Linked DNA regions of Homo sapiens: region 1 is linked to region 2. The links come from fine-mapping of genetic effects on gene expression. A gene starts in region 2. The other region holds a variant in brackets. All regions are shown on one strand. Distances are between the middles of the regions.

Region 1 (15,648 bases), 78 kb after region 2:
TGTTGTACAAGGAGGACACTAAGAAAAATCACTGTGGGAATATTACTGTAGTAAAGTTTTTGCATAAAATATTAATTTAGTCTCTTTGATTAATTAAGATAGAGCACTTAATGTTGGGAAGAAGCTTTTTGCCCAGCAGTAGGCAGGCCTAAGGCATTCTTTGTTGAAAGCAAACCTAGTGACCTCTTTGGCCTTTTTCAGCTAATTTCCCTAGTGCTGCTCTAGACATTGCTATTTGAATGGCAAGGGAAGGAAAAGGAAAAAAAGAATTGCTTCAAAATTCTTGGAGCAAAAATCTTCTTTGGTCATTGTGTCAAATAGGAAGCAATCTCAGGCCCATCAGCAACATAACTATCAGAGTACCAAGAGAAAAACCGAAGAGACTGGTATTACCAAGAGACCAAATCCAAGGAGATAACTTGCCATGTTATCTCAAATATTTCATCATACCAAAACCTGGACCTCTTGATATCTACCCAATAAATGTTAATGCCTACGGTTGTCATCTTTAATTAGAATGGGAAGAGACAAGATAACTTGTAGGGCTTTTGTACTCCTCCGGTGGTTGGAGTATGCCACTAATATGTCAATCTGTTTACAGAAATCACTGCACAGTCAGATGCTAGTGAAATTCGACAGGACTGGAAACCTACATTCCTTAGTAATGAAGAGTTTACACAATTAATGTTAGAGGTATGTCCAGATTTAATTTTTGAAAGTTTTATTTTCCTCAAAAAAGAAATCACAGGGTGACTTAATATCCAGGTGTACCTTGGCGATATTGCGAGTTGAGTTCCAGACCACTGCAATAAAGCTAATATTTCAGTAAAATGAGTCACATGAATTGTTTTGTTTCCCTGTAGTCTATTAGGTGTGTAATAACATTATATAAAAAATACTGATCATACCTAAATTTAAAAATACTTTATTGCTAAAAAATGCTAACAATCATCTGAGCCTTCAGCAAGTCTTAATCTTTTTGCTGGTGGAAGGTATTGCCTCAGTGTCAGTGGCTACTAACTGATTAGGGTGGTGGTTGCTGAAGGTTGGGGTGGCTACGGCAATTTCTTAAAATGAGTCAGCAATGAAGTTTGCCACACTGATTCACTCTTCCTTTCAAGATTTCTCTGTAACATGCAGTGCTGTTTGATAGCATTTTACCCAGAGTAGAACTTCTTTCAAAATTACAGTCAGTACTCTCAAACCCTGCTGCTGCTCTATCAACTAAATTTATGTAATATTCTGTATCCTTTGCTGTCATGTCAACAGTATTCACATCTTCTTCAGGAGTAGAGTCGATCTCAAGAAATCACTTTGTTTACTCATCAGTGGAGCAACTCCTCATCAGTTCGGGTTTATTAGCAGATTGCAGCAATCAGTCACATCTTCAGACTCCACTTTTAATTCTAATTCTCTTGCCGTTTCTACCACATCTGCAGTTACTTCCTTCACTGACATCTTGAACCCCTCAAAGTTATCCACAAGTAATCAACTTCTTCTTAACTCTTGGTAATGTTGATATTTTGACCTTCTCCCATGAATCAGAAATCTTCTCATGCCATCTAGACGGGTGAATTCTTTCCAGAAGGTTTTCAGTTGACTTTGCCCAGATCCATCACATGAATCACTATCTATGGGAACTGTAGCCTTATGAAGTGTATTTCTTAAATAAGACTTGAAAGTCAAAATTATTCCTTGACCCATGGGCTGCAGAATGGGTATTGTGTTAGCAGGCATGAAAACAACATTAATCTCCTTGTACATCTCCATCAGCACTCTTGGGCTACCAAGTACATTGTCAGCGAGCAATAGTATTTTGAAAGAAATCTATTTTTCTGACCAGTAGGTCTCAACAGTGGGCTTTAAATATTCAGTAAGCCATGTTGTCAACAGATGTGCTGTCATCAGATGTCCTGTCATCCAGGGTTTGTTGCTCTATTTATAGGGCATACTTCTTAAGGGCTTTGGGACTTTCAGAATGGCAAATGAACATTGGCTTCAACTTAAAAGTCACCAGCTGCATTTGCCCCTGACAAGAGAGTTAGCTTGTCTTTTGAAGCTTTGAAGCCAGCTTTGGCTTCTCCTTTCTAACTACGAAAGTTCTAGATGGCATCTTCTCCCAATAGAAGGCTGTTTCATCTGCACTGAAACTCTGGTATCTAGTGTAGCGACCTTCATCAATGATCTTACCCAGGTCTCCCGGATCACTTGCTCTAGCTTCTACATCAGCACTTGCTGCTTCACCTTGCACTTTTATGTTATGGAGATGGCCTCTTTCCTTATACCTCATGAACCTACCTCTGTTCTCTTCTAACTTTTCTTCTGTAGTTTCCTTAACTCTCTCTGCCTTCACAGAATTGAAGAGCATTAAGGCCTCTGGATTAGGCTTTGGCTTAAGGGGATGTTGTGGCTGGTTTGATCTTCTGTACAGACCACTCAAACTTTCTCCATATCAGGAATAAGGCTGTTTTCACTTTCTTATCATACATGTGTTCACTAAAACTTTTCTTTTTCATTCACAACTTTGCTACTTGTTTGGTTGCAAGAGGTCTAGCTTTTGGCCTGTCTCAGTTTTCGACATGCCTTCCTCACTAAGCTTAATCACATCTAGCTTTTGATTTAAAGTCAGAGATGAGGGACTCTTCCTTTCACTTGAATACTTAAAGGCCATTGTAGAGTTATTAATTGGCCTAATTTCAGTATTGTTGTATGTCTCAGGGAATGGGGAGCTCCAAGGAGAGGGAGAGGGATGGGGGAATGGCCAGTGAGTTGGTGGAGCAGTCAGAGCACACACAACATTTAAATTCGCCACCTTATGTGGGCGAATCACCATTACAGATATAATAATAATGGAAAAAGTTTGAAATATTGCAAGAATTACCAAAATGTGACACAAGAGACACAAAGTGAACACATACTATTAAAAAAAATGATGCTGATAGACTTGCTTGACCCAGGGTTGCTACAAACCTTCACTTTGTGAAAAAACAAAAAGCAAAACAAAACCCAGTAACTGAAGTTCAATAAAGCGAAGCACAATAAAACAAGGTATGCCTGTATAAATAGATTATAGCCACGTCTCAAGTCTGAAGCAAGGTAGAGTATTTTGCAAATTGAGTTATTTTTCTGTTTGTATTTTAGATGGGACAATTAATTGTGTGATTAATTCTTTATGTATTCAGCAGAAATGTTACCATACGAAAATTTGTTAGAGTATAAATATATTATAAACATTTAAACCTGTACTTTAAATCAGAAAAATAAGTGAATAATTTTTATATATTAACTCACTGAATCCTTACAATACTCTTATGAAGTAAACACTAGTATCTGTGTGTCATAATAGCTGGTATTATGAAGTAGACAATAGTATCTGTTTCTTGCTTTCAGATGGGGAAATTGAGGAACACTTGTCTTCTTTTTTTTTTTTTGGGAGACGGAGTCTTGCTTAGTCGCCCAGGCTGGAGTGCAGTGGCACAATCTGCCCACTGCAACCTCTGCCTCCCAGATTCAAGTGATTCTTCCGCTTTAGCCTCCCAAGTAACTGGGATTACAGGCATGTGTCACCACGCCGAGCTAATTTTTTTTATTTTTAGTAGAGACGAGCTTTCACCATGTTGGTCAGGCTGGTCTCAAACTCAGCCTCAGGTGATCCACCAACCTTGGCCTCCCAAAGTGCTGGGATTACAGGTGTAAGCCTGGCGAACAGTTGTCTACTTTTGACCCTATTATGAAATAATAATACTGGCATTATTGTACTAAAGGATTTAAAAAAATAATTCATGAGTTTGCTCGAATGACAAGATTTCTACTTCTATATTAGCAAAGACTGGGTTTGTTTGAGCCATTCTAGAAGATAGGCATCTACTTAAAATAAGTTCTTTGTGATATCCAGATCTCTTTCCCAAAAGAAGGGGGGGGACAAGGGGGAGGGGACCATTTTCTATATATTCGTCAATTACATAGAGTTAGGAAAGGTTACTCTAACTCCCAGCTCTATAAATTATATACTGCAAGTATTTTTACTTGCGCTACACTAGTGCTGCAGATACAAGGATTAATAAGATATACATGGTTCCTATCAGAGGTCACTATCCTTTTCGAGAGCCATTTAAGTAAACAAGAAATTAGAATTTAGTGTATTGACCATTTTAATAGAAGAATCCCTTTTATAGTATCTTTTGTGCTGTGTATCTTCTACTTCTTCTCCACTGGATCTTCCTTTCCCTTAGACTACAAATATACTTGCTCTTTTTTCAAATGCCTTCTCTTGATACTTCACCCCCTTAGAACTGTTTGCCTTTTTCTTCCCTTCTAAAGTTCATGAATGAGTGACTTGTAATAGCCTTCTGATTTTGTACTCATTTTTAAACTCATTGTAGTCCGACTTGCCTTCCTGTTAACATAACTTTTTGAAAATCACCAAAATTCATTTCTCATTTTCTTATTCTTTATCTCATTTTATACCAAACCATTCCTCTCCTCTTCACTTTGTCATTCTTTCTTCCATTGATTCCTTGACGACAGTGTATTCTGTCTTCTCTATCATTTTCTTTTTTGTAATTTCAATTTTTATTACTATTTTGAGACAGGGTCTCACTCTGTTGCTCAGGCTGGAGTGCAGTGACATGGTCGTGGCTCATTGCAGCCTCAACTTCCTGGGCTCAAGTGATCTCGCCTCAGCCTCCCAAGCAGCTGGGACCATAGGCATGTGCCACCACACCTGGCTAATTTTTTAATTTTTTTTCAGAGACAAGGTTTCGCCATGTTGCTCAGGCTGGTCTCAAACTCCTGGGTTCAAGTGATCTTCCCGCCTTGGCTTCCCAAATTGCTACCATCACAGGCGTAAGCCACTGCACGCAGGCTTCTCTGTCATTTTCTCTGGCCTTTTTCTCTTCCTCATCCCTTATATGTAGATAATTCTTCCAGGATTTGTCTTTTGTAGATCTCATTTCTTCAGCTGTCACTTCTGTGCCTAGGATTCTCAAATGAAAATACATTGTAGTGTATAAAATACAAAATTGCATTTTTATTAAGTCTTGTACTCCCTGCTCTGACTTCTCTTCTGAAATCGAACTTCACATTTCTCAATGCTTGCTCGAAGTACTTTTCTTTATTCCTAATACTACTGATTTCATTCAGATTCCCATTAACTTCCTTAATTAGTCCAAAAGCCACTATGATTTTCCTAACTGAATTTTCTTTTCCCTCTAAATCCATTTTACACCCTGCTTCCACACTACTCTTATTGAAGCACAGCCCCCTGCCCTAAAATCTTCTGTTGGCTTACCATTGTATACGGAATAAAATTCTTATGTCTTAACCTTATATTCAAAGCCTTTTATGATATGAACTCAGCCTAATTTTTCACCTTAATTTCCTGCTACTCCCTTTTATTTTATTCTTCATATATCTCCTTAAACTTCAGATGTACACCTCTGTGTTAACATATCCATGATAATAACAAAGTATTCCTTTGTGTGCCTACAAAACATTGTTGATGTCTTGTATGCTTTGGAGACATTAGCATCTTCAAATAAGCCATAATACTGTATATACATGATTGGATCATGTAATATACCTAGTGATGAAGGTAGAACATTGTCTCTATCTTTTAGAGACCAGTTGTCCAATAGATGGCCAGAGAGAGACTTTTTTTCTCCAGAAGCATTTAAAAATGAACAAAGATACATACCAAGGTATTGTAAAGGGGGAAAGCTAGTATTATATTTTGACAGAACTTTGGATATTTCCATATTAAATCCTTTGTCATTTATCTCAAATTTTTATTTCTGTCCTGCAAAATACTTTTTTCTTTTCATTTAACATATCATTATGTTTAATTTCAGGCTCTTGATGGTTTTTTTTTAGCAATCATGACAGATGGAAGCATAATATATGTGTCTGAGAGTGTAACTTCATTACTTGAACATTTACCAGTAAGTATAAAGATCCTACAATCTACTTCGTATTAAAATGCCTATTTTAAATATTCTAAAGCACTGGGAAGTGGACTTTGAGAGCAGTGTACAACAGTCGTTAAAGGGGTAGGAATCAGAGCTCTAAGTATGTCTTTGTTTCAGCATGTGTTTTCTCAGCTCAGTCATAACTAATCTGTAGTAACTTAATATTCAACTATAGTTATGCATCACTAAATAATGGGAATATGTTCTGAGGCACTTTTGTCACTGTGTGAACATCATAGAGTATACTTATAAAAACCTCGATGTGTAACCTACTACGCACTTAGGCTAT[A/G]TGGTATATATAGCCTGTTGCTCTTAGACTACAATCTGTACAGCATGCCGCTGTACTGAATACTACTATAGGCAGTTGTAACACAGTATTTATATGTTTAAAAATACCTAAACATAGAAAAGGTACAATAAAAAGTACAGTCTCAAAGGTAAAAAATGGTATACCTGTATAGGGCACTCACCATGAATGAAACTTGCAGGACTGGAAGTTGCTTTGGGTGAGTCAGTGAGTGAGTGATAAGTGAATGTGAAGGACTAAGACAGTACTGTACACCTTTATAGACTTTATAAACACTGTACACTTAGGCTACTTTATATAAAAATGTTTTCTTCAATAATAATTAGCCTTAGCTTATTATAACTTTTTTACTGTGTAAACTTAAAATTTTTTTTTAACTTTTTTACTCTTGTAGTAACACTTAGCTTAATACTTTGGGAAGCCAAGGCTGGCAGATTGCTTGAGCTCAGGCATTTGAGACCAGCCTGGGCAACATGGTGAAACCCTGTCTTTAAAAAAACATAAAAATTAGCCAAGTGTCGTGGTATGCACCTGTGGTCCCAGTTAATCCGGAGGCTCTAGTAGGAGGATTGCATTGAGCCTAGGAGGCCAAGGCTACAGTGGGCCGTGATGGTGCCACTGCACTCCAGCCTGGGTGACAGAGCAAGACCCTGCCTCAGAAACACAAATATATCATATAGCTGTACAAAAATATTTCCTTTCTTTATGTCTTTATTTCAAAAGCTTTTTTCTATTTAAAAAACTTTTTTTAACTTTTTAAACATTTGTAAAACTAAGACACAAACATACACACATTAGCCTAGGCCTACGCGGGGTCAGGATCATCAACATCACTGTCCTCCACCTCCACATCTTGTCCCATTGGAGGGTCTTCAGGAGAAACAATAGGCATGGAGTCATCTCCTGTAATAACAGTGCCCTTTTGAAATACCTCCTAAAGGACCAGCCTGAGGCTGTTTTAGAGTTAACTTAAAAATATATATATAAGTCTGGGTGTGGTGGCTAATGCCTGTAATCCCTGCACTTTTGGGAGGCCGAGGCATGCAGATCACCTGAGGTTGAGAGTTTGAGACCAGCCTGACCAACATGGAGAGACCCTGTGTCTACTAAAAATACAAAATTAGCCGGGCGTGGTGGCACATGCCTGTAGAATCGCCTGAACCTGGGAGGCAGAGGTTGCGGTGAGCCGAGATCGAGCCATTGCACTCCAGCCTGGGCAACAAGAGCGAAACTCCATCTCAAAAAAAAAAAAATGTAAATAGAGAATACTCTAAATCATTAAAAGTATAGTAAATACATAAACTAGTAAGATGATTGTTTATTATCATGTACATGTGTACTGTATATAATTTTATGTGCTAAACTTTTATATGATTGGTGGCACAGTAGGTTTGTTTACACAAGCATCACCACAAGCACAAGTGCAAAGGATGACTAATGCATTGATCTATGACATTACAACAGATATGACATCACTAGACAGTAGGAATGTTTCAGCTCCACTGTAATCTTAGGGCCACCGGTGGTCATATATGCAGTCCAATGTTGACCAAAACATTGTTATGCAGTGCAAGGTCTTACCACTTTATCTGACCCCTCTTCTTCCTGTCTTCTTTATTCTAATGCTAACTTTTTAGCGTTTCCATTTTAATCAGCCTGTTGAAAATGTTAAATCACTGAGAATGTCTTGAGAATAACTAAATTTCTGCTGAGATACTTGTTGCAATTAGGGCAACTTGTAAATATTTTTCTCAATAGAATTACTTATAAAAAACACTCTAAAAATAGTAGATACAGAACTTTTTATGCTATGTGACTTTGAACTGATAATGTCATATTGGCCATATTTTAATTCATTATCTATATGACCAGAAGGATAGAGAATTAGAAAAGTATATTTTGTTTCATTAGGATGGTGAATACCTGGTTTATGTGCTTACTTTTTTTCTAATGTGTATTTATTAATATCTGCTCTGTGCCAGACACCATGCTAGGTGCTGTGCCACAGCTGATAGGCTTTTGGGGGGAGTTTTCAGTTTTTAATATGTAATGATGTTATTGAAGATGGAGCTCATGGTATAAATATTCTAAAGTTACTTATAAACTACTCTTATAATGCCTCTCTCTGGGTGCAGTGGCTCACACCTTTAATGCTAATGCTTTCAGAGGCTGTGGTGGGAGGATTGCTTGAGGCCAGGAATTCAAGACCAGCCTGGGCAGCACAGTGAAGCATCCTGTCTCTACAAAAAAATTAAAAAAATAGCTTATCTCTATAACAGGGTAAAGTAATTCTGCTTGTAAGTGTCTCTTTCAAGAGATACTGAAAAGTGGTATTTCTCTCCCTCTGATTACTCTGATACTTCATACCTTATAAAGAGAATCAATGGATTTTAGCACTTAAAAGTCCAGGCTCTCAAGGGGGCATTTTTTAAAGTTGAAAGCCATGCAGTACATAATTTGCTAATTTCTTTGGTTCATACAGAAAATAACTTTGACTTTACTGCTCTTCTGGGGCTTTATTTTCTAGTAAGCTCAAATAGTAGGATAAGCCCAACATTTAAAAACATGTTTGAGAGTAAAACATGAGATATTAGCAATGCATAAGTAAACTAGCATAGGCAGAAAAAAGGACAGACTGATTAACTGAGTTTTCTGGACAACTTAAAAAAATTTGTTTTCATAGCAAGAAAACCCAGGGAAAGAATCCCATTATAGGATTAAGATAATGTCTAAGTAATTTAAAATAAGTATAATTGTATGCTTTTAAACCATATATAACTGTATTAGGTTTTGTCATGTTTACAGAAACTATATAATCTAGTCATAGAGCATCATTTGCAATGTGTTCACACTTTCTCAAAGCCTGCTTCTTGGCACTTGCTTGAATTCCATTCAAAATTCGATGCCCTTCATCTCTGTTCTACTGTTACCTTGTATGTACTACTGTCATGATACAGAGAATTATAATTTTCTGTTTATTTGGATAGTTATGGTAGTTGTAGCTTCTTAAAGGCAGGAACTTTATCTCTGCATCCAGAGGAGCTAGCTAGTTCCTTGGAGCGTCACTCAGTGATTATTTGTTGAATGTATGAAAATGAGTGTGCTACTTGATTTGACTGTTTTAAAAAAATCCCTTTCTAATCTTTAGTGAGTTTAATTGCCCTTTGAAATAGACAACATGTGATAGATCTCATTGGAATTGAAGTGTTTGATTAACACTTCCCTCAATAAAAACCCTGTCACCTTCCCATTTTCTTCTGGACATTTTAAAAAATATTTTTAATTTTAGAACCATTTTTAGATGTACAGAAAAATGGACAAGGTAGTACAGAGAATTCCCATGTGCACTATACCCAGTTTCCTCTGTTATTAACATCTTCTAGATTTTAAAAAATTGTTTGTGTCATCCAATCACTAAATGGTAACGTTGACCTAATGTAGAAAAAACAAAGGCTACTGATTTATGTCATATAAGTAAATCAGCAGAACTTATATTTCCTTTTCATGAAACGAGTAAGGGAGATAAAAAGATCCAAGTAGTTACCATTTTCTTTTCTTACGTTTGATTGTGTTTGAGAACTGAGTGTATGTATGGTCACATAAAGTATGGTCAGCCTCATTTAGAGATTTTAAGTGTAGTGGTTAATGGAAAGTTTGACACCTATTAAAGTGGCAGGAGAGGCAGAATTGTTGGGGCAGGCATTGCTTGTGATCATACTACTCTTGATACAGGCATTCATTTTCTTTTCTCTATGAATATGAAACATCCTATGAAGTTATAGATGAAAAAACAAGGATAAGATAGGTCACATCATAATTTACCAAATAGTAGTAGAAGAAATTGTTAGTAACAAATAATAGTAGAAAACTATAATCATTCTCAAAAATGAAAATTTTAGTTCCTATTAATATTTCAAGTTGGTGGCATGTTTTTCTATTAAGATGATGTATTAGTCTGTTGTCACACTGCTATAAAGGACTCCCCAAGACTGGGTAGTTTATAAAGGAAAGAGGTTTAATTGACTCACAGTTTGGCATGGCTGGGGAGGCCTCAGGAAACTTACAGTCATGGCGGAAGGGGAAGCAAACACGTCCCTCTTCACATGGCAGCAGGAAGCAGAAGTGCTGAGCCAAAAGGGGAAAAGCCCCTTACAAAACCATCAGAACTTGGGAAAACTCACTCACTATCACGAGAACATCAGCATGGAGGTAACTTCCCCCATGATTCAATCACCTCCCACTCAGCCCCTCCCATGACACATGGGGATTATGGGAACAACAAGATGAGATTTGGGTGGGGACACAGCCAAACCATATCAGATTATTTTTTGCATCAATATCATATACTATATTTTGATTCTTTATTTTGTCAGTAGAAGGCAACTTTCTAGCATTTGTGTTATTCAGGCCTATTTATTGTTATTATTTTTTGAGACAGAGTCTTATTCTGTCACCCAGGCTTGAGTGTAGTGGTAGGATATCAGCTCACTGCAGCCTCTGCCTCCTGGATTCAAGCGATTCTCCTGCCTCAGCCTCCTGAGTAGCTGTGATTATAGGTGCACACCACCATGCCCAGCTAATTTTTGTGTTTTTCGTAGAGACAAGGTTTCTCCATGTTAGCCAGGCTGGTCTTGAACTGATGACCTCAGACAGTCCACCTGCCTCAGCCTCCCAAAGTGCTGGGATTACAGGCATGACCACTGCACCCAGCCATCCCTGAATTTTTAGTTCACTCCTTTAGTTGTAGAGGCTTTTCAGACTTCCAGAAAAATCCTTTACTGAAATACAGATATATTTTTGGTGTGGTTATCCCTTAAGCCATTATCAAATACCTCCTTAGTCTAAAATCATTTATTTTACTAATAACTGTTAAACACAAGGCACGGTGTTAATGTGCCCTGATTGGAAGTGAGAAAGATAAAGGTGTAAGAGATAGGCCCCTTTTATTCAGCTATAGGGCAACAGGACATAGACATTAAAATATAGTCATCCTTTGGTATCCATGGGGGAATTGGTTGGTTCCAGGACCCGCTGCAGATACCAAAATCCATGGATCATCAAGCCGCATAGATAAAATGGTGTTGTATTTACATGTAACTTACACACATCTTCCCATTTACATACATTAAATCATTTCTAGATTATTTATAATAACTAATACAATGTAAATATGTGTTATACTATAGTGTTTAGGGAACGATTAGAAAAATGCACGTATTCAGTACAGACACAACCATCTGTTTTTTGTTTTTCCTGAATAGTTTTGATCCATGGTTGGCTGAATTCTGCTAAATGGGAAATGAATAATACAAGTAATAAATAATAAAAGAATTTTATTTTTAATGTGGATTATGGTGTTAAGGGAATGCTTTCTTGAAAGAAGTAATTTGAACTGGTCTTTGAAAGGGGAAAGATACAGATATGTAGAGAGGGGGGAAGGTCATCTCACTTCATGGAGTGGGCTTGGAGGGCTGGAGAAAAGACAGAAGAAATGATGGGAATGTGTGGCCTATATGAAGAATAGTATTAGGTTGGTGCAAAAGTGATTGCGGTTTTTGTTATTAAAAGTATGGCACCAACCTAATACAACACCCCTTTCTCCCCTCTCACCATTCTTACTGCCTCTGTTTGTTGTTGTATGTTTTTTGTTTTTAAGCAGTGGAGCTCTTCAAACAAAATCTTCACAGATGCATAAAATAAAAACAAAAAGTATAACTGCTTTAGTTTAATGCAGGGGCAGGACCCTGGGCCCTGCTTCTCAGCTCCTTTTTACTTCCCCACCCTCTAGTCCTACCTTTACAGGCCTTGAGATACTGTCTCAGCATCCCTAGGATTCCACAGAGCAGTTTGAAACGCAGGAAACCAGGTAGAATGCGTAGTGGCAAATGTAAAGTCATGGAAGTTTTGTTATCAGTGGTACTTAAGTATAGAAACTATCTTATTCATCTTTGATTCCACAGCCGTGGCACATTGTAGCCAACCTGATGTTTGTCAAATTGCTATTGATTAATCACGATTAAAGCTGTGTATTAACAAGAATTCTAATGCTTAACATATTAGTTGTCCTTTTGAGGGGGGATAACTAAACACAAGGCTTTTGTACAATGGGATGCAGGATAAATGCCAGGAAAAGATGAAATAAAGGACACATTGGACAATTGAAATCACACCAAAACAAAATCTCCTCTTTATTTAGCTTGTGCATAGTCCTTTATAGTAGGATATACCACCATTGTTTACCATAGGTTTGAGTATATGGTAAGGCTATGACTTGTCGCCAGAGATTTTTCTTATTAACTCTCTTGGTCCCGTTGTATTTTGAAATGTTCAGAACATTTTGGTGAAACACAGCTTTGCAAATAATTTATCAGGCTTTCAAGGTCATATTGGTCATGGATTGGATGACGTTAGTATGATCTCAATCTTATTTTTTGAGATTTGGTCTATAACTTGACATTTGTTGGTTTTCACAGATAATTGAAAGTTAACTGCTGTGTTTAATAGCGATTATGTACTTTTAAAGCAATTGTCTCTTGAATCATTGAAGTTATTTTACTTTTAACAATTTTCTTTTCAGTCTGATCTTGTGGATCAAAGTATATTTAATTTTATCCCAGAAGGGGAACATTCAGAGGTTTATAAAATACTCTCTACTCATCTGCTGGAAAGTGATTCATTAACCCCAGAATATTTAAAATGTAAGTAGTAGCTGTTAAGCAAAAAAGTCAAATGTTGTATTCAGTAGCACTATCCTTTTGCAAGTTTATGAAAAATACAGACTTCTTTAAATACAGCATTACTCCATATGCCCTATTAGGTCCTTTTTCAATATTAAAATATATATAAAATGAAATTGTGACCATATTAAAAATCTGTAATCTATTTCAGTGTATATTGAAATCCCATCTTATTTGTTATAATAAATCCTGGACTCCCATTATGCCATAAAGCTGTATTTTATGCAAAAGTGAGACCTGGCAATATATAGTTATTAATTTATAAATAAAACTTTACTGTATTTAATAAGGGAAAATTAAACATTCTAATTTTCACCATTGTTAACCAATTGGACACTCAAACTGGAAAAAATTTCTATGTTTCTTTTAAAATTATTAAATATAAAGATAAATTATCTACTTTATTAAACAATTAAACAGTCATTTGTTAGATGTATCTAATTTGCTAGGTACTTGTGCTGTATCATAAAAATATCAACAATAGTGAAAATAGTTATCACCATCAAGATACACAACATATTATGGTAGAATCAGACATTTCTACTAGGTCCATTGACAAATTTATTTGACCGGAGTACCTCATTTTCTTCATATATTACCCTGTATAAAATCCAGAATTGTTACAGCAGTACATTTCACCATTAGCTATTAGATACCTTGTTTAATCACCTTTTTCATTATTTTTAAATGTGTCTCATCTGCTAATACTGACATTATCTTAAAGATTCTTTGTATTTGAATCCTCAAATTCTATAGCATACTGTCTAAAAATTGAGATACACACACACACACACTCACACAAATCTGTGTGTATCTATAACTTTGGTAAGAGTGGATGGCCTTTCAGCGAGAGTTGAGAAAAACTAGAGTTGGAGAATTCATTTCAAGCCTTGTTTTAAAACCAAGTTCATATGACATTGACCATTAGGCCACTCTAGTCTGGTACTTAGAAAGATTTAGGCTGTATATAATAGATACCTACAATTAGTATTTGAAGCCATGGATGGAATGGATTGCTTGAGGTAAATACGTAGAACAAGGAGAGAAAAATTAGAAAGGTGGAAGCCAGCCAGGCCCGGTAGCTCATGCCTGTAATCCCAGCACTTTGGGAGGCTGAGGTGGGCAGACCACTTGAGGCTACGAGTTTGAGACCAGCCTGGCCAACATGGCGAAACCCCATCTCTACCAAAAATTAGCTGAGCATGGTGGTGCATGCCTGTAGTCCCAGCTACTTGGGAGACTAAGGTAGGATAATTGCTTGAACCCCGGAGGCTGAGTTTGCAATGAGTCAAGATCACACCACTGCATTCCAGCCTGGGCGATAGAGCGAGACTCTGTCTCAAAAAAAAGAAAGAAAGGTGGAACCCTTTGGAGATAGCAATAGGAAGACAAAGGAGAAGGCGTTTGCTTTGAAGACCCTACTAAGAATAAAATCGACTGGAGAACTAAATAAAAGCCTTTGGCAGAAAGAGCTTAGGCTTCTGCTTCCAAGAACAGAAATGAAAATGGCAAGAATACTTAAGAAAAGTCTTAATTAAATGGCTTGCTGATCTCCTAGTTAAACAAGTGATATACAAAAGAGTTCTTGCCCCAGAAAAAAGAAAGTTTCATGCCAAAAGAATAAACACAAGTTAAAACACAGAGAAAATTGCTTAGAAAATTTGGTAGGTCATTTTGGCCATAATGAAGTTGAGGTTGTACAGGTGGTAAAATTTGTGTCTAGAGAAAGAATAAGGACAGAATTATAAAGGGGCTAAGGAATTTGAGTTTTATTTTTTACAGAGTAGAGAGCCAGTGAAGGAGATTTGGGTAGTTTTGTTATCTGCAAAAAAAGGAAAAACAAAATCAGGTAAATAGTGGAAAGTTCATTTGGAGAAGGCTAGGAAGAAGACTTGCAGCAGTGGGTTGCCTACCCCAGGCTTACCTGGCTTCTGCTTCATAAAGAGACCCTGAGTCTGAGAGCTGAATAAGAGCCCTGGATTTCTCATCATAGTGGCTCAACTCAGGCTGTGCTCACCTGACCTGCAGATTTCCTACTATACAAATCAAGTGATAGCTTTATGGAGTTACTCCTCAGTTTCATTCCTAGGGTTCAGTTAAACACAACCAGAGATCTTATGGATCAGACCATTCTGATGATCAAGCTGGCCATCCTGCCTGGTACAGTAGCTATGACTACTTTTCCTGTAACAGCTGTTTTGCCTCATGGAGGTCCAGGTCTTCATTGCAATGAAAGCATCTTTCACCAGCATCTCTGGCCTAGAAAGAGCAGCAGTACCTTGCTTATAAAAGTTGCTGCCACTTTCGTCATCTGGTTTGGGAGATTAAAAAAAATCACTCAGGTAGAAAATTTTGAAAAGGACCAGACTGGGAGACAAAAAGGAAAACCATATAATCCTAGCAATAAAAGTAAGGATGGGCTGAGCACAGTTGTTCACGCCTATAATCTCAGCACTTTGGGAGGCCAAGGCAGGCAGATCGCTTGAGCCCAGGAGTTCAAGACCAGCATGGGCAACATGGTGAAACACCGTCTATACAATAAAGAGAAATAGAAAAGTTGGCTGGGGTGTGGTGGCACATGTCTGTAGTTCCTGCTACTCGAGGCTGAGCTGGAGGATCACTTGAGCCCAGGAGGCAG
Region 2 (15,648 bases):
GATTGATGCCTACCAACACAGGTCACTACTACTTCCATACAGTGCTTCATGTATACATTCTCATTTGACTAGGGTAAAAATATTTGTCAGGATATGCAGAAATTATTTAATATGTAATATTGTTCCCCATTTTACTGAATGAATATTCAATGGGGTACAAAGTTAGTTTTTTTAATTGCCAATATTCAGTCATTTTTTGATCTATAAAAATTGATATTTTATCCTAATATTTTTGTCTATTTTTGCCAAGTGTGCTCTATTGAATCTCCCTTCTCTATAGTGCCTTTTTTGTCAAAATGTGGTAAATGTGGTCCTAGAATCAGCAGCATTCCTAAGGAGCTTGTTAGAAATGCAGAATCTCTGGCCCCATCCCAGACTAACTGAATCATAATTTTCATTTTAATGAGATCTCCAGGTGACACGCACATTAAAATTCGAGAAGCACTACACAGCAAATCCTTTAAAGACAACCTGAGCAACTTCTTTTACCCATCCCACAGTGTGGGTTATTAAGTCTGTCTAGTTGAACACTCCAGTGTCAGTTCCAAGCAAACATTCTCTGGCTGAACTCGTGACTTAAGCAACTCTGAAGATGAAAGGTGGGGTTTTTAACCAGTTTTTCCCTCTCCTTTTGAGGCAGGAGAATAAGGTCTGGAGGCAGGGAACCTAAGGCTGTTTCACTCCAACTTCTTAGAGCCAGATTTAAAGGAAAACCCTAACTTGCCATGCCTAAGTAACAAAAGGACCAGAGGCTACTTTGCAAACCCCCACCTTCTGTGCGTGGCAGATGGGAAATTGGCTGTCTGCAACCAATCACACTGCTTGCTGGCTGAGAGTTCGTTTGCAACTTTGTAACTTCACCTTAGCCTCTGATTGCTTGCTTTTGGCAACCACTCAGACCAATTGCAAGCCACCACTTCATGAAATGAAGTGGCCAATGGGAAGCCTCTAGCGGGTATTTGGACCGGAGAAGATTCTGAGCCACTACTCACGCCGGCTCCCACACTGTGAAGTGTACTTTCATTTTCAATAAATCCCTGCTTTCGTTCTTTAGTTGCTTTATTCTTTCTTTGCGGGGCGTTTTGTCCAATTCTTAGTTCAAAACGCAAAGAACTTGGACACCTTGCAGTCAAGACCCTCTATCAGTAACACTTTCAGGGCCTATCCCTCTAGTGTTGGGGACTGGGAGAGAGAATAGGGATGAAAGGGATAAATTTTCCTTAACTGTACAATGAATACTGCATCCAAATGTTCACTCTTTAATGGGGCACATTGAGTTCTCCTAGAAACTCTGAAACAGCTTCCCAACTGCACAGTCCCTCGATCAACACAGGCGATGGAGCAGTCTTAGCTCTATCTCTGCTAACTCTCTTAGTTTCCTCTCCCAGAAGTAAATCCAGCCTCTTGCTGCTAGAATTTCTTTCCCCCTTCAGGATCAAGATAGTTCAAACCTGGACAGCATTTTCTACGCAGCATCGATTGACCCATGAGAAACTTACACATCCTCGGTATCCTTGCTATACCACATGGTAGATGTTGCAGATTGCTTTATTTCAGCCCACTCCCTGGCCAGCTATTTCTCCAACTCTTTTCCTGTTTCATGTAGGTACAAGGCAATATCAGCAAGTTTGATAGTGAATGAGATGCCACTCTCCCTCCCTCATAGTCACCTAGCTGATTCTGTTGGAGTCTTGTTCACTTGGGATAGGGTGAGGCATAAAAAGGAAAGGAAAAACCATAGTACACCCCAGGAACCTGGCTTCAGTGATTCTGTCAGGTGTTTTTCCTCTTGCCAAGTGTTGAACTTATGTGGTCTGAGGGTAGAGAGTTGGAGGTTTTGGCTATGGTAGATCCCTTTTTGTCCAACTTTTATCCTTGGGTGAAGGAGTGGGTATCTGACCCCAAATGTTGGCAGCTGTTTAGAAGTTGAGGTACTTCATGCACTTGTACCCTATTTTAGATTTCAGTCAGCATCTTTTTTACAAGTATTAGCTGTATCTATTAGTGTTACATATTCTTGCTGGTTCTCAAGTATTCAATCACTAGAACGGTATTAGTCACATCATATTTCACTGACTGATTTTAGTTTGCTTCTCTTTTGTACTTTTGAGAGGTGAAGCCAGCTGGGCTTCTGGGTTGGGTGGGGACTTGGAGAATTTTTGTGTCTAGCTAAAGGATTGTAAATGCACTAATCAGCGCTCTGTGTCTAGCTAAAGGATTGTAAATGCACCAGTCAGCACTCTGTAAAAACGCACCAATCAGCATTCTGTGTCTAGCTAAGAAGGATTGTAAACACACCAATCAGCACTCTATGTCTAAAGCACTCTGTGTCTAAAGGATTGTAAACGCACCATCAGCACTCTGTAAAATGGACCAATCAGCATTCTGTAAAATGGACCAATCAGTGCTCTGTAAAATGGACCAATCAGCAGGATGTGGGCGGGGCCAAATAAGGGAATAAAAGCTGGCACCCAATCCAGCAGCAGCAACCTGCTCGGCCCCCCCTTCTACACTGCGGAAGGTTTGTTCTTTCACTCTTAACAATAACTCTTGCTGCTGCTCACTGTTTGGGTCCACACTACCTTTATGAGCTGTAACACTCACTGTGGGGGTCTGCAGCTTCATTCCTGAAGTGAGCGAGACCATGAACCCACCAGGAGGAACAAACTGCGGACACACCACCTTTAAGAGCTGTAACACTCACTGTAAAAGTCTGCGGCTTCACTCCTGAAGTCAGCAAGACCACAAACCCACTGGAAGGAAGAAATTCTGGACACATCTGAACATCTGAAGGAACAAACTCCAGACACACCATCTTTAAGAGCTGTAACACTCACTGCAAGGGTCCATGGTTTCATTCTTGAAGTCAGTGAGACCAGGAACCCACCGGAAGGAATAAATTCCGGACACACTTTCATGCACATTACTAAGGCTACCCCTTGACAATAATCTGCCTACAGTCATAATTTGGGACAAAGATGATTCTAAAAATCATCTTTCTGGCATTTCATTCACTCATTAAATCATTCATTCACCTCAGGCATTGGTGGTTTTGTTTGTTTGAGACAGACTTGCTCTGTCACCCAGGGTGGAGTGCAGCAGCACGATCTGGGCTTACTGCAGCCTCTGCCTCCCAGGTTCAAGTGATTATCCTGCCTCGACTGACTCTTGCTCTGTCACCCAGGCTGGAGTGCAGCAGCACGAACTGGGCTCACTGCAGATACTGCCTCCCAGGTTCAAGTGATTTTCCTGCCTAAGCCTCAGACTATAGACATGCACCACCACACCTGGCGAATTTTTTTGTATTTTTTAGTAGAGACAGGGTTTCACCATGTTGGCCAGGCTGGTCTCAAACTCCTGACCTCAAGTGATCTGCCTGCCTTGGCCTCCCAAAGTGCTGGGATTACAGACTTGAGGTACCACACCCAACCTGGTTTTTATTTTTAAATTTTAATTAATTTATTTTAGTGATGGGGTCTTGCTACATTGCCCAGGCTGTTCCTTAACTCCTGGGCTCAAGCAATCCTCCCGGCTCAGCTGGAACTACATGTACGTGTCACTCTACCCAGCTCACCTGAGGTATTGAAATGGATGCTACACGTATAGTGGCAAAGAAAACACATGGTTCTCGCCCTTCTGGAGTTTATCTTGTGGTGGTAGGGAAAATAGTTAATAAGAAAACAAATATCATATATACATATAACTAATATATACATAATTTAAACTTAAGTATTATGGGGGAAACTGGACACAACAGAAGAGAATAACTTTGGATATTATTGGTGGTGGGGGGGCAGGTGGGGTGTTGGAGGGAGACCTACTTAAATAGGGTAGTTAGATCTTTGAGATGTGATGGTTGAGAAGGAGCCAGCCATGAGAAAAGGTAGGAGGGGTCCAGGCAAGGGCACAGCATGCATGAAAGCCTGAGAGCAGAGATAAATTAGCAAAGAAATGAAAGGCAGTTTCTGGGTTGGAGTGTCACAGGAAAAGGAAAAAAATGGTAAGACATGAGGTTGGAGAGGTAGGGAGGGGCCAGATCAAACAGGTTATTGTGACCATAATTAGGAATTTGTATGTAATGGGAAATGACAAAAGGGGTTTTAGAAGAAAATAATGTGACTTCACTTATATTTTCAAAATAATTTGACTGCTCTGTGGAGAATAGATTGAAAGAAGCATCCAAGATATTTGTGATACAGAAGAAGAGACATCAGGTAGATAAACAGACGTGTGTATAGAGCCCAAGGGAGAAGTGAAGGCTGGAGTTAAAAATCTGTGAGTCATTTCAACTATTCTTAGGGTTCCAACAAGAAATTGTAAAGATTTACAACCACCATCGTCACCACCTAGCCTTTATGTAGCAGTTTAATTTACCTTTGATCATCACAGTTCTCTGAAATGCCTAGTCTTGTAACTTTACAGATAAGTACCTGAAGCTCAGAGGAATTACTTGATTTGCTCACTATCTCTCAGCATGAGTCAGAATTTAAGCCAAGAGTTTTGACCACAAAGTCTATAATACTACCTCAACTATGAGGCAGGGTTTTGTAGTTCCATTTTAAAGGGATTAGAAAGAATATGAGTAACTGAATAAACTATGCAAGCTTTAAAAAAATACTTAACCTTATATTCTCTATTAAGCATATCTTAAAGCTTCCTGTTCTCCAATTCACCTTAAAGTATGGTAGTAAAACTAGGAATGTCAATGAATGGATGAGTTACTATGAAAGAACAGATATGACTTTGTGACTGATGGGACATAGGAGTTAGGGCAAGAATTAGAGCAAAAGAGACATGAAAATTACCCAAAAAGGAACATCATTGACAAGAATAGCCAACATTTCTATGGGATTTCTTATGTACCAGATAAAATTACACACACACAGACACACACACTGTCTCGGTTAAGCTATGAGATAGGATTGTAATTATCCCATTTTAAAGATGACGAAATTAAAGAACAGAGAAATAACTTGCTTAAAGTCATGCAGAATATTAGTGGTGAAGCTATGATTTAAATCCAGGCAGTTAAGATCCTAATTTTGTACTCTTAACCACTATGATACGTTGCCTACCAACTGGGGGAAATCAGTTGACAGAGGAGTTGGAAATACTCAGTTTAAATGATAGCAAGGTTCACAAGAAAGGGTGAACAGAATATCTGAAATTATGTTTAAGGCTATGGAATATAAATTTAGGAGCTATGAAATTATGAGGCAGGATTTTTGTTTTATGGAAATGTGGGATCTGGAAGTTGGAAAAGCTATTGGAAATATCCAATACAGGCTGGGTACAGTGGCTCGCGCCTGTTAATCCCAGCACTTTGGGTGGCTGAGGTGGGTGGATCACTTGAGGCCAGGAGTTCAAGACCAGCCTGGCCAACATGGTGGAACCCCATCTCTACTAAAAATACAAAAATTAGCTGGTGTGGTGGTGGGAGTCTGTAATCACAGCTACTTGGAAGGCTGAGGCACAAGAATTGCTTGAACCCGGGAGGCAGAGGTTTCAGTGAGCTGAGATCATGCCACTGTACTCCAGCTGGGCAACAGAGCAAGACTCTGTCTCAAAAAATCTGTCTCAAAAAAAAGACATATCCAGTACATTTTTTCTTTTCTTGGAGAGAATGTGGGAGAAAGGAGAAGCTGTGAACTGAACCATGGGAAATGTTCAAGCAGTGAGAGAGGACTGAGCAGAAAAACGGGGGATTATCAACAGGTCTTGGTAAATAATTAAATACAGTGAAAGAGGGAGGAGTCAAAGATGGACATGGTTTGATCTTGGTGACTGAGAGGACAATGAAATCATTAAAAAGGGCAAAGGTATTTTGAAGATAATATGTTCTAGATGATGGGGAATATAAGGAGGGATCAGTGTCTCTAGAATAAAATTCAAAAATCCATCCTAGGGAAAGCATTCAAGCCCTCTCTTGTCTGGCTGCAACCTACCTTATCAGTATTAATAACTTTGCCTCCGTCTTGCTACCTACCTCTTGTCAGTCGGGACTCTTGATTACATGTGAAAGAAAACCTCTCACTGGTTTAAGCAATAAAACAGATGCAAGAATTTACTGACTGGTTTAACGAAATTTCCAGAGGAATCTAATCTACATTTGTTTCCAGGCCTCAAACATGTCTTTAGGCCAAACCTGTCTTCAAATCTGCTTTTTTTCCGTGTTGCCTTCTTTCTCAGAATTCACGTGTGGAAAGATGGCTCCAGGTCTCCATTCTCCCAGATTTAAACCCATTGGTAAAGACGTAACACCCTTCTTAGGAACCGTAGTTTGCAACCGAGGATTAAACTCAAATATGCCTTCCCCTTGTGTCCTGCTCAGACCATATGGACTGAGAGTGGATAAATGATAGTTCTTCAAAAGAAATTATCAGAATAGGGAATGAATGCTGAACAGGCAAAAATGTCGACCAAAATATCTTCTGCTATATGATGGGGTAAATTAACAAATCATGTTTTCCCACTCCTGAAAGAAAAATCCTTAGGTGCAGGATCAAGGATCTGAATAAGTGCTTCAGTTTGATGTTCTTTTGCCCAGAGCATACAGCAAGAATTGAAAATGTTTACTGAGGTGACTGTTACTTTAAAGGGAGGATTTTACGGCCAGAAAAGTGCATTTTTTGAAAGAAAAAGATGGCTTTTATTTCAAATCCAAAAGATATTCATTAAAACATAGGAATTACTAGGAATTAAGACTGTAAAGATCTCTTTTCCAGTAGAAGCACTGAAATGTGCTTTCTCATGTGGACCAAATGTGCCTTAACGCATCAAGATAAGTAATTTCCCGAAGATAAGTAGTAGTCACACGTTGTTCCAACGAGGAAATCCATGCAAATTAGGGTCCTGGTTTATTTCTGATGCTTCATTCTCCATCTTCCATTACACTGTCACTTGATTTTTAATAAAAGGGCAAGGGAAAAATCTCCAAATGAGCAAATAAATCCCGACCTCCTTTCGCTTCCCTCCTCTGGCCGAGGGCGCATGCCCTGTCTCCCCAGGCCCACCCACCAAGAAGAAGCAACCCAAGCCGCGCTCCCTCAGGAGATGGGAGAAGATGTTACTGGCGGTCCAGGCGCCTTTGCAACTCTTCTCTCCCAGCACCAGGAGAGGAAACACGAATGATGCCACTGGGGGAAAAAGTCTCCTGCCAACACCCGAAAAATCTAAGCTGGCGTCGGCAGTGTTTTGCTTTGGAAGGGAGAGCGGGTTCCTTTTCTGGCCTCTGGATCCCTCATCCGGCAGGAAGCTCTTCTTCCTCCTCCTAGCCCCCGGCATACGGGGGGAAAGCCAAAGAGCCTCCAGGACCTAAGGCTAGCGCTCTGCCGGCCGGCCGCGCCCTCCACCCGACCAGGCCCCGCCTCCCCGGCTTTCTAGTAACCGGCGCCGTTCCCGGCCGGGGCAGGGAACGGTGCGCCTGCAGAGCCAGATTTCGGCCCAAGGGGCGCGGGAGTCTCTTCGGGCGTCCGGGATCCCCTGGCGCGGCTCCGTGCTGCCTAACGGGGCAAGTCGCATGCGCACCGAGCCGCGCTGGGGAAAGGGAGAGTGAGGGGAGGGGCGAGCGCAGAGCCTCCGCCGGCCGTCTGAGCCCGCGGGGTCGCTGACGACGCATGCGCCGGGAGGGGGCGCAATCACGGACTCGGCTTGCGGCTGCCGGTTTAAAAAAGGAAACCCCGGAGAGCGAGAGCGCGAAGGAAATCTGGCCGCCGCCGCCGCGAGCGCTCCCGGTGAGAGGCGCCCGCCCGGTGGGCCCAGGGCCTGCCGAGTGCCGGTTGGCTTCCTTGGCGGCGCATGCGCGCTCCTGGGCTGGTGGAGGAGGGGAAGGGAAGGGAGGGGGAGGAGGAGCTGGCCACAGGAGCGGCGAATTTTTGGGGGGGTGGGTGGGGGGCGCCACTCACAGCCCCAGGTGCTGCTGGAGGTGGGAGCCGCGGCGCCTCCTGGACACAGGCGGGGTAGTGGTTCCGAGTCACCGCAGCGGGAGACCTGGGTGGGGGAGGGAAGAAGCCGGAGCCGCCGCAAGCCACACGGTGAGGGCGCGGGGAAGGGGAGGGAGCGGGGGGCGGCGTGTGTGGGGCCGGGGGGCGGCGGCCAAGGGTGGGGAAGGCGGGAGCTGAAGCCCAAGTTTGGCGTGTCGTTCTAGTGTGTCTTTTCCCGGGACTTCGGGCCGAGGCCCGCCCTGCCTGAGAGGCCCTCTGGGGCAGCTGGGGTTACCTGCGGGGCAGGGGCGGGAGTGGGGTGCACGGCGGGGCCGGGCGGCTTGAGGGCGCCCGGAGCTGCGGCCGATTCCAGCAGCTGGGAGGCGGGGAAAGACGGGGACCGGGTGCCGAGAGAGCTTTCGCTGGGGACCCGCTAGGCCTTGTGACCCACTTTATTCCTGTCACCACTCGGGCACGTTTGGAGCAGCGCCCAATGGGGCGCCGGGGCGGCCAGCTCCTCCGGGGAACCCCCGCCCTCCCGGCGCCCGGCCCGCGTGCCGCAGTCCGCAGTCCGAACGGCCGCCGTTGCCGGCCGCGGGCTGGTTCCGTTAGTGGTGGTGGTTCCGGGGTTCCGTTCCTAGGCAGCGCGCGGCTATTAGCGTCTGACTCCAGCGACCGCGCGCGGGTTCGAGGGTTGGCGGCGAGGCGCTCGGTTTCTCTTCTTCCGTCCACCCGCGCTTCCCGTTCCCCGTCACCGCCGCTGGCGTTTGTAGATTTCTTTCCGCCAGTGAAGCTGGGTTTTCTGGAGTTGGCTCTGGCGCTCTGGCCCCTGGAGTGTAATTTCCTACACGCAGCGCCGCAGAGTTTATATTCTTTGAAAGTGTTTGTAGCTTTGTAGAGGTCCTCTTGTTGATGGTAGGTGAGCCTAATTCTGCAAGATAAAAGCCTAGTCTCTGACCTGGCAGATGAAAGATCAAATCAGATTGTGGTTTCCTGCTATTAGAATGCCGTGCTATTAGACTTTAAGGCTTTTTAGCCTTCTTTAAAAAATAAAAAAATTTTTACAGTGGAAGAAAAGCACAAGAAGTAAACTTTTACAGTCGTTGATTTGACTATAACGCTGATCCCCCCAAATCAAAGGTAATTTCACTTTGAAGATTGCGTTCTGATTTGTAGCTTTAAGCGATTAGAGAAAATTGTGCAATATTCCCCTCTACCTGTTTGAAAATAAACATTCTTAAAAGGATGTAATTTAGATAATGAATTGCTTTCTCTGAAACTTATCCCTTGGGACACCTCAAATCTGATTGGTTTTCAAAGCTTGGGGGAAGGAAATTAATTCCTGTGATAAGTGGTTGGCTGAACAGAATGTCTTGAAAGGTTAGCCTGTAGCATTAGGAGAAATACCTAATGTAAACGACGAGTTAATGGGTGCAGCACACCAGCGTGGCACATTTATACATATGTGACAAACCTGCACGTTGTGCACATGTACCCTAGAACTTAAAGTATAATAATAAAAAAAGTAAAAAAAAAAAAAGTTAGCCTGAAGAAAGCAGACTGAAAATGTTCTAAAGCTAGGCGTAATCAGTTATGAAAAAAGAATAAGGAAGCTTTCTACGTACTAACATGCAAAGATTGCAAAAATTTGCTATGAAGTGAAAAAAGCAAGGTGTAGCGGTACTTTGTGAATAGTGTGTTACATCTTAAGGGCGAGGTGTAATAATACAAGTTTATGTTTGCTCTTTATATAAAGAAATTATGGGAGGATTTAGAAAACTAACAATAGAGGAGAGGGAGAAATAGTCTGAGGGAATGGTGGGAAATGAGATGTATTATGTGTATGTCTTCATGTTTTCAAATTTTTGTGTGTATTATGGACTCATAAACTGGATTAAACAAAAATCCTCCTCCCCCAAATAATTTGTGTGATTTTTGTTGCCTAATTTATGGTGATTTGAGTCATTTTCAATATGATTGCTTTTCATATTTTTTAGGAAAATCAACTAAAAAGGAAGTTTGGGATACCTTTTATGACTATTTACACTTTAATTTTTAAGATTGCAGAGGTCACAGGCATTTATCTTTTAAAGATGTTTAGTTATATCTTGCCTTGCTAAAATATATGACTGTTTACATTTGGCATTATGGCTGGATTATGCTGCTTTCAGAGTGTAGTTTGTGTTTCCCCCTCCTCTTTTTTTCAGGAGTCATAGATGGGTAAAATTTTACTTAACCCCAAAGTTTCATGACAAACAATTATGAGGAGGATGTGAACATTCCCTTAAAGTGCTAGTAAACTTGATTGTCTAGGTTAGTTTGCTTTTCAGGTTGGGAAACTTTTCTTTCTTTTGAGGAAATCAAACATGAACCCCAGTGAAAGGTAAATTGGGGTGTGTGTGTGTGTGTGTGTGTGTGTGTGTGTGTCTGGTTGTTTCTCATGAAAGTGTACAAAATGAACATTTTTTTAGGACTGGATTGTTGAAAACCTGTTTAATGAGGTTAAGACTGCACAGGCAGCTGTTAGATGAGATATAATTTTGGGAGGGGACCCTCAAACTCCCCCTGGTGACTAATATTGTGTAATGAAAGTAGTGAATAGTGAGTAATGGATTGCAGTTGCTGTGGGCATTTTTGTAATATTACCAGTATTCCTTTTTATTTTGTAGGATAGGATACTTATATTATTTCTGTTTGATATGTAGGTTTTTCTAATAGACTTCTGCAAAGTGTCACTTATTTTTCATTTGAATTCCATGTGGGTCCGTTCAATCTTTTTTAAAAATGGAATTACATTTCAATTTTTTTTTTTTTTGGAGACGGAGTCTTGCTCTGTCACCAGGCCGGAGTGCAGTGGCACGATCTTGGCTCACTGCAACCTCCGGCTCCCAGGTTCAAGAGATTCTCCTGCCTCAGCCTCCCGAGTAGCTGGGACTCTTATTTTTAAAATTACAGAAGTAAATTGATGCTCATAAAAAGTTAATACAGTGTATATATAATAAGTGACAACCCCTTTACATCCACTTCTAGCTCACATTCCTCCCCAGAGGAATCTAGGGAGCACAGCTACTCGTATACCCTTGACTGAAGGGTAACACTGTTAACACCACTGTATGATCTTGTAGATCTTTTTCTGTGCATTTGCAAATATGTTCTTTTCAGCCTTGAAAACGGAATCATCTTGAATGATCATCTGCTTTGCCATTTTGCCTCCAGTATGGGCTCTGTTATTACCTACAGGACAGGGACATGACTTGGAGCCTGTCAGAAAGCTTAACATCTGATATAGACCATAGGTCATACTCATCTTTTCACTAGTGAGGGGCCAATTGTTATGGAGGCATTTGCAGAGTTTGAAGGGAGGTCATACTGATGTGAGTTTTATCTGGTATAGATTTAATTCACTGTAAACTTCGAGCGGCCGAGGTGGGAGAATGGCTTGAGCCCAGGATTTCAGGACCAGCCTGGGCAACATAGTGAGACCTCTTTGCTACAAAATTTTTTTAAAAAAAATTAGCCAGATGGGGTGGTGCACACCGTAGTTTCAGCTAATTGGGAGGCTGAGGTGGAGGGATCACTTGAACCCAGGAGTTCAGCCTTGGTGACAGAGTGACACCCTGTTTTAAACAAAACAAACCCAAAAGGTGCTTGGATTCCATGAATTTTATAGGACTCTTTAGAGTCCAAGTTTTAGGGTTTTCTTTGGCTTTTGACTTGATCGATAGTGTATGGGTTAAACTTTGATTTTTTTTCCTTCTGTACTTGCTTGCAGACTCCTACGAAAGCCTCGTAGATTACACCAGCCTCTTGAGCTCCTCTGAAGTGAACCTAAGCAGACTGTCCTTAACTAAGGGACACTGATACTGACTTGGATAAAATTTAGCTTTTGAAGGGAAAAGGAGAGAAGAGGCTCTTTGGTTTGGCTTTTGCTTAACTGACAACAAACAACTAATATGCACTACCCTCTCCTCCATCCATCCCTCTGGTTCTCTAATAGTTCCAGAGGGTTTGTTTTAAACCAGGTTACAAAGAATTACCAAACCTTAATTCTTTTTAGCTGATGGAGTTTGCAAAAAGTTCAGAGTATTGATCAAGACTATTTACTATGGGAGATACCTAGAAAGATGCAGTATAATTGACCCTGCCTTCAGTGGTTTTGAAATCTAGTATGGTTAAAACAGCATAGACATTAATAATAATAATAATAATAATATTATTATTATTATTATTATTATTATTATTATTATTTGAGACAGAGTCTCTCTCTGTCACCCGGGCTGGAGTGCAGTGGCGTGATCTCAGCTCACTGCAACCTCCGCCTCCTTGGTTCAAGCGATTCTCCTGCCTTAGCCCTCCAAGAGTAGCTGGGATTACAGGTATCTGCCACCACACCCGGCTAATTTTTGTATTTTTAGTAGACAACGGTGTTTCTCCATGTTGGCCGGGCTGGTCTCAAACTGCTGACCTCAGGTGATCCGCCCACCTCGGCCTCCCAAAGTGCTGGGATTACAGGCATGAGCCACCATGCCCAACTGAAAAGCATAGACATTATAACACAAGGTGGAAAATGATAGATTTTATAAGAAAATTACATACAACATTTGTAAGGATGAGCCTATTTCTGGCTGTTTTTTTTTTTTTTGGTGGGGGGAGAGGCATGGGATTTTGAGGGAGAATACGTATCTTAACCTTTTAATTAGTTAAGAAAGGAAACTTAGATCTTAGCTCTTGATAACGTAAGGAGTTGTTATGTTCTTTTAGCAGGCATCTGTGAGACTGATAGCTATTTCAGTAGTTTTTTTTAAGCTTTCCCGCTGGAAAGAACCATTTGATGTTTTATTTGATAATTATAATACAGCCTCTTTAATCATTTCAGGATTGCTAGAAAAATTAGGAAATTAAATCCTATCAGTTAACTGTTGTCTACCATCAAATATGTCAGCCAGTGTTAATATTAAAAGAAAATTGTTTCCTCTTATCTCAATCTTGAAGCATATATATTATGTCACCTCTTCCACACATTTTTACTTCTAGTGCTGTGTCAAATAAAGCATTTATTTACTGTGACTATTTTAATAAAACAATATTGTGGGGGAAAAGTCAAAGTTCTGCACTGTAGCTAAACCTTTTGATGTTTATCTGTTTCCTTATAGTTTTTTACAGATGCATAAAGTAAAATATTTTTTAAGTTCCTTGTAGGCATTACACCAATGGCTGTTGCATTTTCTCCTTTTCTGGATCAAAAATTCTAGATGGAGTTGTATGAATTATTTATAGAACACTCAAGTGTCAGAGCAATATAATTGTTACTAATTGACTATAATTACATAATGGCATTTATATTTACAGGTTGCTTTACAACCATTTATTAAAAGCCCTATTAGGTGTAACTTCTGTGAAACAGGTGGATACCGAGATTCCTGTTTTTTTCCATTTTTTTGATTATGCAAATGTTGAATTATTTAAACTTACTCTTATAGCCTCAACTCTGAGTTATTACTTTAGTTGGATATTTCACAGAGATGTAATTCTGTTAATTTTAAGTCTTAGAAGTCTACAGAAATCACTTGTGAAAAATGAAATTTTATGAATTACTTTGTCTTTTAAAGTATGCTGTTTCGGATATAATTTGCTTTTCATTTTTCAGAAACATTTTCATTTTTTACATTAATAATGACGACGATTAAGTTTCTTTTTCAAAGAGGTCACATTCAGGTACTTAACATTTTTAATTCTCATCCCAAATAGTGGAAAATTGAATGTGAGGGCTATCTGGCTGTGACATGTTACCCCATTGATCCCCAGGGTTGATTCAGCTCATCTGGCTGGCTCGGCAGGTGTCCCCTTCCTCCCTCTCCACTCCACGTGCGTCCCTCCTGAAGCTGAAGCTGCGTGCTTGGTTGAAGAGGACAACCATCCCAAATAGAGGAGGACTGGTCTTGGGTCAAGGGTATACGAGCAGCTGCGCTCCCCTGCTAGAACCTTCGAGCAAGCTCTCAAGGTCCAAATAGTGGAAAATGAAAGTACAGGTTGATTCATGTTGGCAGGTTTTGGTATCAAAAAAAAATTAAAAAGCACACATGGGGGATATACCAATAAAGGTTAGACCATATGCCTAGCTAAGAACTTATCATTTGTATTAAAATATGGTTTAATGTAAAGAGTTGCCTTTCTCCATTCCCCCCTCCCCTCCCCTCCCCTCCTCTCCCCTCCTCTCTTGCCCCCAATTAAAAAATAGCACATCCCTAATGTGGGAAACAGTAAGAAAGCATAGATTACATTTTAGGCAGGGCACAGTGGCTCACACCTGTAATCCCAGCACTTTCGGAGGCTGAGGTGGGTGGATCACTTGAGGTCAGGAGTTTGAGACCAGCCTGGCCAACATGGTGAAACCCTGTCTCTACTAAAAGTACAAAAATTAGCCGGGCATGGTGGCGGGTGCCTGTAATCCCAGCTACTTGGGAGGCTAAGGCAGGAGAATTGCTTGAACCCAGGAGGCAGAGGTTGCAGTGAGCAGAGATCACGCCATTGCACTCCAGCCTGTGCGACAGATCAAGACTCAGTCTCAAAAAAAAAAAAAAAAAATTAATATCATTGGAGATCATACCACCGAAAGTGCTGTTGTTAATCTTCTTGATTATCTATCTGCTTCCTGCATTTTGTTGAGCCATTACATAAGTATATGTATACTTATATGATGTTATGGGCTCCTAATGTAGTCCACTGCAGTGCAAGCTGTTCAGTTAACAGTGAATCATCAACATATTTTCATGTCAGTATTTTTCTGCTATGTGATTATTTTTAGTAGGTATGTAACATTCTCATCTCTGTGTAATAATTTACTTATCAATCTTCTGTTGGACATTGAAGTTGTTTTCAATTTTTAGGATAATAATACTGTCACTTCCCTATATCATGCATTTTGATACTGGCCTACCTAGTATCAGTGATTTTTTCTATTTTTGTTTCTCTGAAAATATCTCAATTTCACCTTTTTTTTTTTTTTTTTTTTTTTTTTTTGAGACAAGGTCTCACTCTGGCACCCAGGCTGGAGTGTAGTGGTGTGAACATGGCTCACTGTAGCCTCAACCTTTTGGGCTCAGGCAATCCTTCACCTCAGCCTCCTCAGTAGCTGGAACCACAGGCACATGCCACCATGCCCAGCTAATTTTTAAATTTTTTGTATAGGCGGGGTCTTGTCATGTTGCCCCGGCTGTTCTTGAACTCCTGGGCTTAAGAGATCCCCCCACCTTGGCCTCCCAAAGTGCTGGGTATAGGTGTGAGCCACCATGCACGGCAGTTTCACCTTTTTTGAAGTGGTTTTTGGTGTTTTTTTTGTTGTTGTTGTTGTTGTTTTTTTGAGACAGTCTCGTTCTGTTGCTTAGGCTGGAGTGCAGTGGCGTGATCTGAGCTCACTGCAGCTTCTGCCTCCTGGGTTCAAATGATTCTCATGCCACAGCCTCCTGAGTAGCTGGGATTACAGGCATGTGCTACCATACCCAGCTAAATTTTTTGTATTTTTAGTAGAGATAGGATTTTGCCATGTTGGCCACGCAGGTCTCCAAACTCATGGCCTCAAGTGATCTGCCCACCTTGGCCTCCCAAAGTGCTAGGATTACAGGCATGAGCCACTGTGGCTGGCCTGAAGTGTGTTTTCACTGGCTATTAAGTTCTAAGTTGGTAGTTATTTTCTTTCAACACATTAAGAATGTTTGGTTGCTTTCTG

Evidence for each region. PIP is the estimated chance that this variant, and not a neighbour inherited with it, causes the effect. A credible set is the group of variants that fine-mapping cannot tell apart.
Region 1: its variant is the best candidate, but not a certain one, in a credible set for the expression of CLOCK in whole blood (INTERVAL, PIP 0.61).

The regions. Positions count from the first base shown.
Region 1 is chr4:55,461,008-55,476,655 of GRCh38, reverse strand. It overlaps CLOCK (clock circadian regulator), which reads left to right. Exons shown (of 23, transcript NM_004898.4): 7 at 602-693; 8 at 5,850-5,939; 9 at 12,851-12,971. Among named protein-coding and RNA genes, the nearest start is that of TMEM165, 73 kb to the right of the region's middle. The variant A/G (reference allele first, on the strand shown) is at 6,256.
Region 2 is chr4:55,538,867-55,554,514 of GRCh38, reverse strand. CLOCK (clock circadian regulator) reads left to right here and starts at 7,606. Exons shown (of 23, transcript NM_004898.4): 1 at 7,606-7,733. LOC124900704 (a long non-coding RNA gene) reads right to left here and starts at 8,650. Exons shown (of 2, transcript XR_007058122.1): 1 at 7,905-8,650; 2 at 6,626-6,899. It also overlaps the pseudogene RN7SKP30. RefSeq lists silencers at 7,331-7,700, 7,761-7,860, 7,981-8,610.